Regions from separate parts of the Homo sapiens genome. Here regions 2 and 3 are each linked to region 1. Evidence: fine-mapped expression QTL. A gene starts in region 1. Each other region holds a variant in brackets. All regions are shown on one strand. Distances are between the middles of the regions.

Region 1 (4,244 bases):
AGAGATGGTAACTGAGACATTGCTTATTGAAGAAGAGAATCTTTCACATCTGAAAAAACTCAAGTGCGTTAGAAGGTTTGACTACTCATGGCAAAATAGTTTTTGTGCTGATTTCACACTCTTACTGGTTTCTACTAAAAAAATGGAGCTTATCAACCACACAGGTGTCTACTCACTTACGGTTCTCACAGCTGGGATTGGACCACAGAGAAAGAAATAAAAGGCCTCCTGAGGCAATCACCAGCTCCTCTGCATCTAGAATCTGGCTCCAAAATGTTGCCTGCATTTACTTACTGTCTCTGTACTTGTGTCTTCTCTGAAGAACAATGCAAACTTCCAGCTGGGTTAAACCCAATTTAGCACAGCACTGTCCTTTAGATATTTTTAAAAACGTAAAGAGAAATGACCACTGTTCTCACGCTGTAATTTCAAAATGGCAATTTCCCTACTATATACTTGTTAAAAGTGAAAATTTTTTAAAAAGGTAAAAGGAAAAAAAAACCCCACTCAGCTGCTCAGTGAGGCAGAGTTAAAATATTCTGCAGAAACAGCACTTATGAAACAGGCAGAACCCCTGGGGCTACCAATTCATGAACACACAACTGGCAGTACAAGACAGGTGTATTGTCGTAGACTCATCACCCAGAAAAGCATTATTATTTACTTTTAACAATAAACATTTTATGATGGCACTCCGTTTTAGTGATAAATGACTGGGGAAAATAAAAAATGTGTATAGCAGAATCAAATATAGGCCCTCCCCGGGGGTTTCACTGGCTTTCTCTCACAGCTGCTGGCTACATTATTTCTTTTCCACTTACATTTTTACAGCATGGGGTTGGGGCGGGGGGGTGGCTCTTGGTTTTCTGGTTGTACCTGTCAGATTTGTTAATCAAATGAATCCAGTCCTACAAACGATGAGCCTGTGACAGCTGGCCTTTGGGGTTGGATTCTGCCCTGGGCAGCAAAGTGTCCCTTATTTGGGTATTTTTTTCCAGGTTGAAAACTCGGCACTTAAAATTTAGCATCTTACCACTGTGAAATAACAGGCATTCCGAAAGAACTTCGGCATCTGATGCCTTTCCGGGAACACTTGGGCCACTCTCCTTAACCTTTACCGGCAGTTTTAAATACTACAATGCAGGTACAAGCAGAAAAGCCAAGGATGCGGGCTATGCAAAGCCACTCTGTGACTCTACCTACTGCCATGGGAACGTACTTATGGATGTGGCATGTGAGTGTGTGTGTATGTGTGAGTGGGTTTGTGAAAGTGTGTGGATTCGTGCGAATACGTGTGTGAGTGCTTTGTGTGTATTTTTGGATGAATTTGTGAATGTACATGTGTGTTCATCTGTGTGTGTGTTTGATTATCTGCTTATGAGTCTGTATGATTGTGAACGTGTGAGTATATGTGTGCTGTTTGTGTGACTGTATGAGTGTAATGTGTGTATGAATGTATGTTTGAATGTGGGTTTGAGTGAATGTGTGGGTTGTGTGTGAATGTGTGTGTAAGTGAGCATATCACTGCGTGCATGTGTGTAGCTCCTTAAGTGTGTATCTGAATGTGGGTTTTATTTTTGTGCGCGGGAACGCACATTGTGGGTGTATTTGTCTATATGCATTTGTGCGTTGTGACTGTGTGTTGAGTGTGAGCGTTGTGAGAATGTGTATTTGTGTGTCATGAGTGTGTGCGCGTGTGTTTTTGTGCATATGTGCGCGCATTGTGTTTGTGTGCATTTGTGAGTGTATTTTTGTGCGTCTGAGTGTGTGCATTGTGGATCTGGGTGAATGTACTGGTCTGCGTGTGTGTGGGTGTGCGTGTGTGTGTGCGCGCGTTGTGCGCGAGTGTGCGAGCGCGTGTGAGCGGGTGTGTGGTGCGGCCGGGCGCCTCCACCTCCCTGATCCGCCCCATCCCGGCGGGCGCCCGAGCAGAGGCAGCGGCCCGGGCCGGGGCGGGCGAGGGAGGGACGCGAGCCGGGGCAAGCGGGCTGCGCCACCGCCGGCGCCGCGCCGACTTTGCCCTTTAAATCGGTCTCCAAGCCGATTACAGCTGAGCTCCCACGTGACGTTTTACCTTCTGTCTCCCGGAGCGCGTTGCCCGAGGACAGTCCTTCCCCGGCTGCCGCCCCAGCCCGCCGCGGGGGCTCGGCTCCCGCAACTTTGGGCGAAGCGGCGGCCGGCTCGGGCGCCCTCGCGGGGCCGCGCTCCACGCGGGCGTTGGGGGCTTGGGGGGCTCCGGGGGCTCGGCCGGGAGGGTGGTGGTTAGGGCGGAGAGCGTGCCTCGGCCCCAGCCCGCGCCCCTGCCACCGCGCGCCGCGGCCTCCCGAAAGCGGGCGGGGTGCCCTGCGCGCGGCGTGGGGAAAGGGGGCGCCCTTCGCCGGCCGGGACCTGAGCGGTCGCGCCCTCGAGGGAGCCAGCTGGGCCATGGCCGCGAGGCAGGGGTGAGACCGGCGGCCACCCGTGAGCCCTCCGCACCCGCACCATGCAGAAGAGCGTGCGCTACAACGAGGGGCACGCCCTGTACCTGGCCTTTCTGGCGCGCAAGGAGGGCACCAAGCGCGGCTTCCTGAGTAAGAAGACGGCCGAGGCGAGCCGCTGGCACGAGAAGTGGTTCGCCCTCTACCAGAATGTGCTCTTCTACTTCGAGGGCGAGCAGAGCTGCCGCCCGGCGGGCATGTACCTCCTGGAGGGCTGCAGCTGCGAACGAACGCCCGCGCCACCCAGGGCCGGCGCCGGGCAGGGAGGCGTCCGAGACGCGCTGGACAAGCAGGTACCGCGCGCCTTCTCTCCGCGGTCTCCCAGCCTTGATCGCCGCACTCCCTTGCCGTCCTAATCCGGGGATCAGGGGTCGGGGGTCGTGAAAGAGTGCGGGGACTATGCTCCGAAATCCCCCCGCGTCACCAGTGGCGGGACATCTCCACGCTCCTTCCGATCTTCATCCAGGGATTCTCCCATCTCCATACCCCTCCACCCCACTGCCAAGTGATCAGTCAGAATAGTGGCCCGACTTGCTTTCATTACCCTGGTAGAGGTCGAGTCGTTTCAGCTTCTCTGCCAACCATCTATTGCTTCTCTAGACCTGGCTCGCCAGATTTTTGTCTGGTGACATGTATTGACACCTGTTGGGTGTAGATTGGCAAGACGGAACTAACTTATTTGGAAAAGTTTGATTTCTGCCATACCCGGCTGGCGCGTGTAGATTTCTTTGCCTGCAGATGTTTGACCACTGGTTGGGCTGGGAACAAGCGGGGCTCCCAAGCCGGACAGACACTTTCTGTTGGTCATTTTCAATCAGTCTTTGTGATTTCGGTCAGTTGGCCTTGCTAACATTTGACCTGCTGGGTGTAATTATGAAGGTAAATGTGTATTCATATTCCTCAGGATTAATATTTGGTAGCCACATTCTTGCTATGTTTAAAAATGTGGGCATTTTTAAAGAACGCTTCTGTACTTTTAAATGAATGCTTTGAAAATGAATGCGACCTTTTAATTCTGGGTCATAATTTTATTAGTTTTGCTGTGTGCTCATGGTCGCGGGGTGGGGGAGAAAAACCCTTTAAGTCTTAGTGATCCCAGCCCCTCATTCCTGCAAACACAAAGTTTGTATGTTTCCAATCACCGTTTGGTTATTAAAGTTAAAGCAGACTAATTTTATGCCCCTAATGTTCTCATTTAGCTTCTCAATCCCCACCTTGATATGAAAAAGGCTGATTGTTTTTGCTGTTGCGTAAAAATATTCGCAGCTGAATTTTCCATGTGAGTTCAGATCAGACAGCATCTACCGCACACCACAGAGGCTGTGGGAGGTGCTAGCAATGGAGTGATCCGTAAGATGCCTACCTAACCCTTTGGGGCTCATAAAACAATGTGTAAAATTAAGAGGAGTTAAAACTAGACCGACCGGAAGTTTGAGTTGTTTTCACTATAAATCATTAACAGACTTAAGTGATTAAACTTGTTATAACACTTATAAATCTGAAAGTTTAAATATGCTCTTTAGTTTCTGAGGGCTTGTTCAGAGTCATTTGAAAAACTGATTTCCAACTTTATAGATATAGATACTAGAAATATAAACATAAATTTCAAGTCATGCATTTTAGAATTTAAATTGGGAGAAGAGTTTTGAGGAAACATTTTTTTTCAGGAATATATATAAGTAACATTCTATTGGTGGGATTTTTTTTAAGGTATGTGTTCCAAGGCCCCGCAGGAACCAAAATGAATAGGTTTCTAAATGTTATTAT
Region 2 (4,244 bases), 34 kb before region 1:
AGAGACTTTAGATATGGCATCAAACCATGATCCATAAAAGAAAATTTAGGTAAAAACCAGAACAGACACTTCACTAAAGAAGTGACTGCATCATTTTATATTTCTACCAGCATTGCTTGAGGGTTCCAATCCACATCCTTGCGTACACTTATTTTCTGTTTTTTTTAAAAAATTATTATAATCATCATAATGGTGTGAAGTAGTATCTCATTGTAGGTTTGATTTGAATTTCCTAATAACAAACGATGCTGAGTATCTTTTCTTGTGCTTATTGGCCATTTGTATAACTTCTTTTGAAAAATGTCTATTCAAATCCCTTGCTCACTTTTTAATTGGATGGTCTTTTTTTGTTCGGTTTAAGTGTTCTTTATACATTCTGGACACTAGACCCTTATCTGATATATAATTTTGTGTGATAAAGAATTTGGCTGGCTTTTGTCTCTAGCTCCTGGGAGGTAGCATTGAAACCCTTGGAATTTCCCAGGGGACAAGAATGTTTTTGTTATTTATGGTGGGCACCTCAGACCATACCTGATAGTTTATGCTATGGAGGTGATTCATGGTAGACTCCTTAAGCTAAAATACACTCAATCTTTTTGATATGAACCATTGGACCAAATACATCTATTATGGACTTAATGGGGTTATATTCCTTTTTCAGTTACACATTCAAGTTTAGAGACATTATAAATGGCATTTAAATAACAATGGTTTGCAATTGGTAAATAAGTAGGTTCACCACAATTCCTCATAATAACCTTTTATATCTCAAAGGCAGTTTTTGTCACCTCTTAGCCTTCTTAATCCAGGCAAAATAACTGTGAGGCCTCTTTCCATTTCTTTAATAATTCTGATGTATGTCTTTTTTCAAAAATTGTAAAGCCTCTTTCAATTTCTGTAATAATTCTGGTGTATGTCTTTTTTTCAGTGCTTAGAAGATTATATTCTTTTAAATTGTAAACATTGGCTCTAAATTCATGTTTTGTCGCAATTCCTTAGAATAGTATGTTATGAGAGGTAAAAACTGCCTTTGAAAATATGTAAGTAATACAGTCATCCCCTCTTATCTGCTGTTTCACTTTCCATGGTTTTAGTTACTGGCAGTACAGTACAATAAGCTATTTTGAGAGAGAGAGAGAGAGAGAGAGAGAGAGAGAGAGAGACTACATCGATATAACCTTTATTACAGGATATTGTTATAATTGCTCTATTTTATTATTGTTGTTGTTAATTTCTTACTGTGCCTAATTTACAAATTAAAATTTATCATAAGTATGCATGAATAGGAAAAAACAGTATATATAGGATTTAGTACTATCTGCAGTTTCAAGCATCCACTGGGAGTCTTCAAATGCATCCCCCCTATTGTACATTGGTTTGGATTATAGATGCAGTCAGCCAGTAGCATAAATAGAAAGCATGTATGCTTGACCTTTTATTTGCTTCTCAGACCCTCAACATTCAGCAGGAATCTGCTCTCTATATAAGAAATAAAATCTGTCTTTATCTGGAGACTAGGACAGTTTCACTGGGTTTAGAAAGACAGCATTTTCCACCTTGCACTAACATTTATAGTCATCCTCCATGCCCTGAAGTGTCCCATTTCTTTTGATTATCTGATCAACACAATGATATTATTTTGAACACTGAGTTTCCTGGGTACAAAAGGAGAAGCTGTCAGTTTAGTTGCACAAAGCAGTTTAGACTGATGATTGCAATAGATTCATGTGAATTTGCCAATACTTTGACCTTAATCCCTCTTCCTCAAAAATCAATGAAACTAAAATAAAACGATATTGGCAAACTGGCCTGTCATTCACAGTTACCATTTCTGAAAGATCACTGTAGAACTACCACAGTGCAGAGGAATTTAGATTTTTATAAACCCTTCATAATTAACCCATTATTCCTAGGTAGATTACTTGTGATTTTCATTCTATTTTATTTATGGTACTATTTTTGTGGTTTTTTTTTTTTACAATGAACATCTACTTTTTGGTGTTTTTAATTGTGGGAAAAATACTGAAAATCTACTTTTATAATTAGTACTTTTATAATTAGATATTTCCATTTTAGAATGGGGTCTATTGGCTTTTTATGATGAAAGAATCTTTGCTGAGATTTGCATTAAGACAAGTTCATATAAGGCACAACAGAGTAAACATCCACATACTCCTGATGATCTGATCTAGTTTTTGTTATTTTAAAAATTGGGTGTCAGATAGTGTTTTCAGTCTCTGCTAAATGTGCTTATGACCTCTTTCTCTCCCCATTTGTATTATCCT[GC/G]ATTGGTCACCCAGCCTCAATGGGTGTCAGTTTCCTACTCTGTAAAACAGAACAAATGTTACTTTGTTATGAGGTTCAAAGCACTCAATAGAGCACCTAACAAGTAGATGGAAAAAAAAGGAGCTTTTTTTTTTTTCTGACTGAGAAAGACCAAATATTTTGTTCAGTTACTTATATGGCTTGATACCGAATTTCATTTGACATTTTGGATTCTGGTCACTACCTTTTCCTATGTTTAATGCTTCCAAATGGTCAGAGCCTTCAGTTTTCCTCTACATCTTTCTCATGATGTTCATGACAACTGTGTTATAAAGAAAAGAAGTAAAGATGTGACTTTGATGATATTGGAGCTGTTTATTCAACAGAGATTTACAGTGACATATCTAGGTTGTGCATTGGTCCAGTTTGCATAGAGGGAATATCAAGTTCCCAAACAGCAGCTTATCTGTTATGAGTTGTCCAGTGCCTGGGTTTTTTTCCACTCCTGACTGAGGCTTGAGTATCACCAGACACAGGGTTGGATCAGGCTTGGGAAAGGTGTTGGAGCTACTCTGCCAGAAGGTGAATAAGGGAAGGAGACTATTGACTTTCTTAGACCGAGCTGATAGGCAGTACATGTGAGAGAAAGATGAATAACAACAGAGTAAGGGTCAACTCCCACCCCCACCCCACCCACCCACACACACACACACATTAATTGTATGTAAAGGGCTGGTGCTAGCTGCTTTGAGAATCATAAAAGGAAGTGAAACAGAATGTCCCACCCTTAAGGAACTTATTCAAGATAGGCATCAAGGATGAGGCACATGAGTTAAACAGAGTTCACAGTTAAATATCAACATTAAAGATTCCAGTAGGCAGCCTCCGAATAGAGTTGACTGGTATAGAACCTGCTATGGTGACCCAGAGGAAAGAGAGAAAGCTGTGGGCTGATGGAATGAGCAAAGGTTTCACGGAAGACATGGGATTGGACACGTGGCAGAATTCAAATGGAGCTGAGCAATGGCATGAGAGCAGGAATGGCCAGATGTGTTAGGTAAGGATGTGCAGAAGCATTGTGGGAGGCAGAAGTGGGGCTGAGGCTGCAGAGATGGCAGGAATACGTGCCTTTGTATAAGTCAGGGTCCTGTTTCCTCATCCTCCTGAGAAGATGGAGCACACATTCCGCACCCTCCTTACCGTTCTGACCTTCTGTAATCCTGAGAGCTGACCTGTGGATAACAACTTGCTTTCAAAAGTGGGGATCTATTGGCTTGTGTGACTGAGAAGGACAAGAGCAGATCCAGGGAGGCTGTGTTACAGCTTGTCTACCTCCTGTTCCTCCACCTGGAAAGGCAGTTACGATGGGGTGGCTGAGACTGTGGGCTCCTCCCAGGCTGCCAGGGTTCACGTTTGGCTCCTCCTCTTTCTGGCTATGCTTCAGTTTTATCCTCTGATATAAAGAGTGACAATCATGGCAACTACCTCCAGGGTTCTTGTGTGAGAGTGCTCAGAAGAATGTCTGGTGCATAGGGAGGGCTTAATACATGCTAGCTATTAGTCTAATCTATGCTTGGCTGACTCTCTCAAGCTCCAACTACATTCAGGCTTCTGCTGCAGAGGAGAAAGCGGAAGCTGACCCCAGGTACCATCTTTATGACTCAGCCTTACAGCCAGGAGGCAGCCCCAGAATCCTATCCTGGGACATATGATGAGGAGCCTGGGGTGGAAAAAAATGGAGTGTTAGGTATACAAAGAGTGCTCCTCTGCACACACATCTGATCCTCACAACTGAGTCTATGGAGAAGCAAAGTATGTACTCTACATTTTAAGGGTGAAGAAACCAAGGTATTAAAAACTCAAGAGATTCCTGGGAAAATGACAAAACCAGGAATCCACCCAGGCCTGCCGCTCTGTTTCACTGTTATCACCAAATCTCAAAATGATTTGTTCCCATGAAATATAGAGTGCCTTTGATG
Region 3 (4,244 bases), 330 kb after region 1:
TATAAAAAACACTTTTTTTTTTTTAACAGAGAAGGCAAATGGTTATCATGGAACCTAAAAAAGGGGAATTAAGAGATCATTACTGGGCCAGGAGCGGTGGCTCATGCCTGTAATCCTAGCACTTTGGGAGGCCGAGGCAGGTGGATCAACCTGAGGTCAGGAGTTTGAGATGAGCATGGCCAACATGGTGAAACCTCATCTCTACTAAAAATACAAGAAATTATCCGGGTGTGGTGGCAGATGCTTGTAATCCCAGCTACTCGGGAGGCTGAGGCATGAGAATCACTTGAACCCAGGAGGCAGAGGTTGCAGTGAGCCGAGATCGCACCACTGCACTCCAGCCTGGACAACAAGAGTGAAACTTCATGTTAAAAAAAAAAAAAAAAGAGCGAGATCGTAACTGATGAATAAACCTTCAGCACCATCAGAGAAAGCTCTATTCACCCTAGGGGTTAGACTGTTTGACCATGTTCAACCAATCACTTATCTGAGTGCTGTGAAAACACCCACACCAGAAATGAAGGATTAAAGAGGTATACCATAATTAATCATGTATTCATTCTGCAAACATAATCTATATCTGAAAATGAGTAAACCTAGTTTGAGGTATGTAATTATGAAACTGTAAAAGCAGGATTTAAGAAGAGTTTTTTAATAGCTTCATGAAACTTACGAGTTATAGTGGAAATCCAATGAACTGATATTATCATTTACTTTTTACTATATACATCAGATTCCCTATTCTCCAAAAGTGTATTTGACTCATAAGCTGTATCTATTTTCAACCTGAATGCCAAATTTTGGCATCATCACAAAATCTTTGTTTGCATAAAACTTATTTTTGGCATAAAAGCAATTATGAAAATAGAAAACTCTTTTAAATAATGTAGATGAGGCCAAAAAGGAAGACACTGGGCTCTTGTAAAAACTGTACTGCTGAAGACACGTGCAAACATGCATGAAACAGATGTAAATATAGACACAATTTGTGAACACTGCAGACAGGGCCTGAATTACTTGGAACTCATCAGGACTGATGAGGCACTAACTGCATTCAGGTGCACTTCAATCAGAACTAGATTATACCATTAAAATTAACGAGCCATAAGAAGACTTTAATGAATAAAAGAGGACTGGTATTAAAATCTTTTACACATTTTACTCATTTGGCAACAATGTGGTTAACAGTGCAGTCACATCTCTTTGTGGTAGACAGGCAAAAAATTTAATTATTCAAGTTTTTTTTTTTTTTAAGATGGAGTCTCGCTCTGTCGCCCAGGCTGGAGTGCAGTGGCACGATCTCAGCTCACTGCAACCTCTGCCTCCCATGTTCAAGCAGTTCTCTTGCCTCAGCCTCCCGAGTAGCTGGGATTACAAGGGCCTGCCACCACGCCTGGCTAATTTTTGTATTTTTGGTAGAGACGGGGTTTCACCATGTTGGCCAGGCTGGTCTCAAACTCCTAACCTCAAGTGATCCGCCCACCTCAGCCTCCCAAACTGCTGGGATTACAAGCGTGAGCCACCGCGCCCAGCCTTAAGATGTTTTTTAAGTAACACACTCTCTGGCACATCGCTTCGATATTCACTTAAATGGCCTATTGGAGGCCGAGGAGGGCGGATCACGAGGTCAGGAGATTGCGACCATCCTGGCTAACATGGTGAAACCCCGTCTCTACAAAAAAAATACAAAAAAAATTAGCTGGGCGTGGTGGCGGGCGCCCGTAGTCCCAGCTACTCCGGAGGCTGAGGCAGGGGAATGGCGTGAACCCAGGAGGCGGAGCTTGCAGTGAGCAGAGATCGAGCCACTGCTTTCCAGCCTGGGCGACTGAGGGAGACTCTGTCTCAAAAAAAAAAAAAAAAAAAAAAAAGAGATCAACTTATCTGTATCTGTCTTTTGCCATCCTGTTATTTCTTAAAATAGAAACAAAACATCTTTCTCTGATCCCAAATTTTCTCATTATACTGCTGAGATGTTGTTTTTTCCCTCTTTTAAGTTGTTAGTGCTTTTCTAAGCCAATAAGGCCCCAATTAAAAAAAAAAAAACTCTTTTCTAGGAATATATTCCCCATTCCATGACAGGGATGGAAAGTCCAACCATCTTCAAATAGGGCTACTATAACATTCTGCAATATATAAAGTTGGCAAGGAAAGATGAATATTTGTCAGGTATCAATGTGTACTTTATTATTAGCCCAGCAAGTAATAGAAATATTAGACAATCTCAGGAAGATAACATGGCCATATCTCTCAGCACAGGGAAGGAAACAGACATTTAAAATTCTGGATCCACAAAACCTCACATATCAATATTAATCTTGAATGTAAATGATCTAAATGCCCCCACTTAAAAGGC[G/A]CAGAGTGGCAAGTTGGATTAGAAAAGCAAGACCTATCCATCTGCTGTCTTCAAGAGACCAATCTCACACATAAGGACACCCACAGACTCAGTAAAAGGTTGGAAAAAGATCTATCATGCAATGGAAAACAAAAGAGCAGGGGTCGCTATTTTTATATCAGCTAAAACAGACTAAACCAATAACAGCAAAAAAAAAAAAAAGGACAAAGAAGGGCATTATATAATGATAAAGGGTTCAATTCAACAAGAAGATGTAACTATCCTAAATATATATATGCACACAACACTGGGGCAACAAGATTCATAAAACAAGTACTTCTACATCTACAAAAAGACTTAAGACAGCCACCCAGTAATAGTGGAAGACTCCAACACCACACTGACAACATTAGAAAGATCATCAAGGTAGAAAACTAACAAAGAAACTCTAAACTGACATTTGACATTTGACCAACTGGATCTAATAGACATCTATAAAATACTTCCACCTATCAACCACAGAATATACATTCTTATTTTATGTTCTGGGGTACATATGCAGGATGTGCAGGTTTGTTACCTAGGTAAATGTGTGCCATGGTGGTTTGCTGCACCTGTCAACCCATCACCTAAGTATTAAGCTCAGCATGCATTAGCTATTTTTCCTGATGCTCTCCCTCCCCTAGCCCCTGACCCTGCCTACAGGCCCCAGTGTGTGCTGTTCCCCTCCCTGTGTCCATGTGTTCTCATTGTTCAACTCTCACTTATAAGTGAGAATATGCAGTATTTGGTTTTGTGTTCCTGCTTTAGTTTGCCACAAGACACATTCTTATATGCACATGGGAACATACTCCAAGATCAACCACATCCTGGGCATAAACCAAGTCTTAATAAACTAAAAAAAAAATCAAAATCATACCAACCATACTCTCAAAGTATAGTGGGATAAAAACAGAAATAAATGCCAAGAAGATCGCTCAAAACCACACAATTACATGGAAATTAAACAACTTAGTCCCAGAGGACTTTTGGGTAAACAAGAAAATTAAGGCAGAAATCAAAAAATTCTTTGAAAGAAATGAAAATAGACAACATACCAAAATATCTAAGATACAGCAAAAACTGTACTTGAAATGTTAGAAAAATCTCAAATTAATGACCTAACATCAGACAGAGGAACTAGAAAAATAAGAACCCCAAAGCTAGCAGAAGAAAAGAAATTTTAGTTATTTCAGAGCAGAACCAAACAAAATTCAGACCCAAAAGTCCATACAAAGAATCAACAAAACCAAAAATTGGTTTTCTGAAGGATAAAAAAGATCACAGACCACTACCTAGATTAACAAAGAAAAAAGAGAGATGATCCAAATAAGCACAGTTAGATATGACAAAGGTGGCCAGGCATGGTGGCTCATGCCTGTAATCCTAGCACTTTAGGAGGACAAGGTGGGTGGATCACTTGAGCCCAGGAGTTCAAGACCACCTGGGTAACATGATGAAACCCTGTCTCTACAAAAGTTAGCTGGGCATGGTGGCATGCACCTGTAGTCCCAGCTACTTGGGAGGCTGAAGTGGGAGGATTACCTGAGCCTAGGGAGGTCAAGACCTCAGTGAGCCAATGATCATGGCACTGCATTCCAGCCTGGGCAAAAGGGTAAGACCCTGTCTCTAAATAAATGACAAAGGTGATATTACCACCAATCCCACAGAAATACAAAAGATACTGAGAGACTATTATGAACACCTCTATGCACACAAACTAGAAAATCAAGAGGAAATGGACACATTCCTGGAAACACACAATCTCCTAAGATTGGATCAGGGAGAAACTGAAATCCTGAATAGACCGGTATCAAGTTCTGAAATTGAAACCAGTGATAAAAAAAATCTATAAGCCAATAAAAGCCCCAGA

Alleles and levels. Positions count from the first base shown, and alleles are read on the strand shown. Sizes are in standard deviations (SD) of each study's normalised expression. Not every link is listed here.
In carriers of allele G in region 3, the expression in cerebellar hemisphere of the gene that starts at base 2,107 in region 1 tends to be higher than with A alone (small effect, 0.35 SD a copy in GTEx).

Evidence for each region. PIP is the estimated chance that this variant, and not a neighbour inherited with it, causes the effect.
Region 2: its variant is the best candidate, but not a certain one, in a credible set for the expression of RASGRF2 in ovary (GTEx, PIP 0.75).
Region 3: its variant is the best candidate, but not a certain one, in a credible set for the expression of RASGRF2 in cerebellar hemisphere (GTEx, PIP 0.64).

The regions. Positions count from the first base shown.
Region 1 is chr5:80,958,257-80,962,500 of GRCh38, forward strand. RASGRF2 (Ras protein specific guanine nucleotide releasing factor 2) reads left to right here and starts at 2,107. Exons shown (of 27, transcript NM_006909.3): 1 at 2,107-2,770. The coding sequence starts at 2,483. It overlaps RASGRF2-AS1 (RASGRF2 antisense RNA 1), which reads right to left and starts at 2,651. Exons shown (of 4, transcript NR_105015.1): 1 at 2,525-2,651. RefSeq lists an enhancer at 2,210-2,931.
Region 2 is chr5:80,924,412-80,928,655 of GRCh38, forward strand. No RefSeq gene overlaps it. Among named protein-coding and RNA genes, the nearest start is that of RASGRF2, 34 kb to the right of the region's middle. The variant GC/G (reference allele first, on the strand shown) is at 2,286.
Region 3 is chr5:81,287,151-81,291,394 of GRCh38, forward strand. All of the region lies in intron 1 of CKMT2-AS1 (CKMT2 antisense RNA 1), which reads right to left. Among named protein-coding and RNA genes, the nearest start is that of CKMT2-AS1, 12 kb to the right of the region's middle. The variant G/A (reference allele first, on the strand shown) is at 2,354.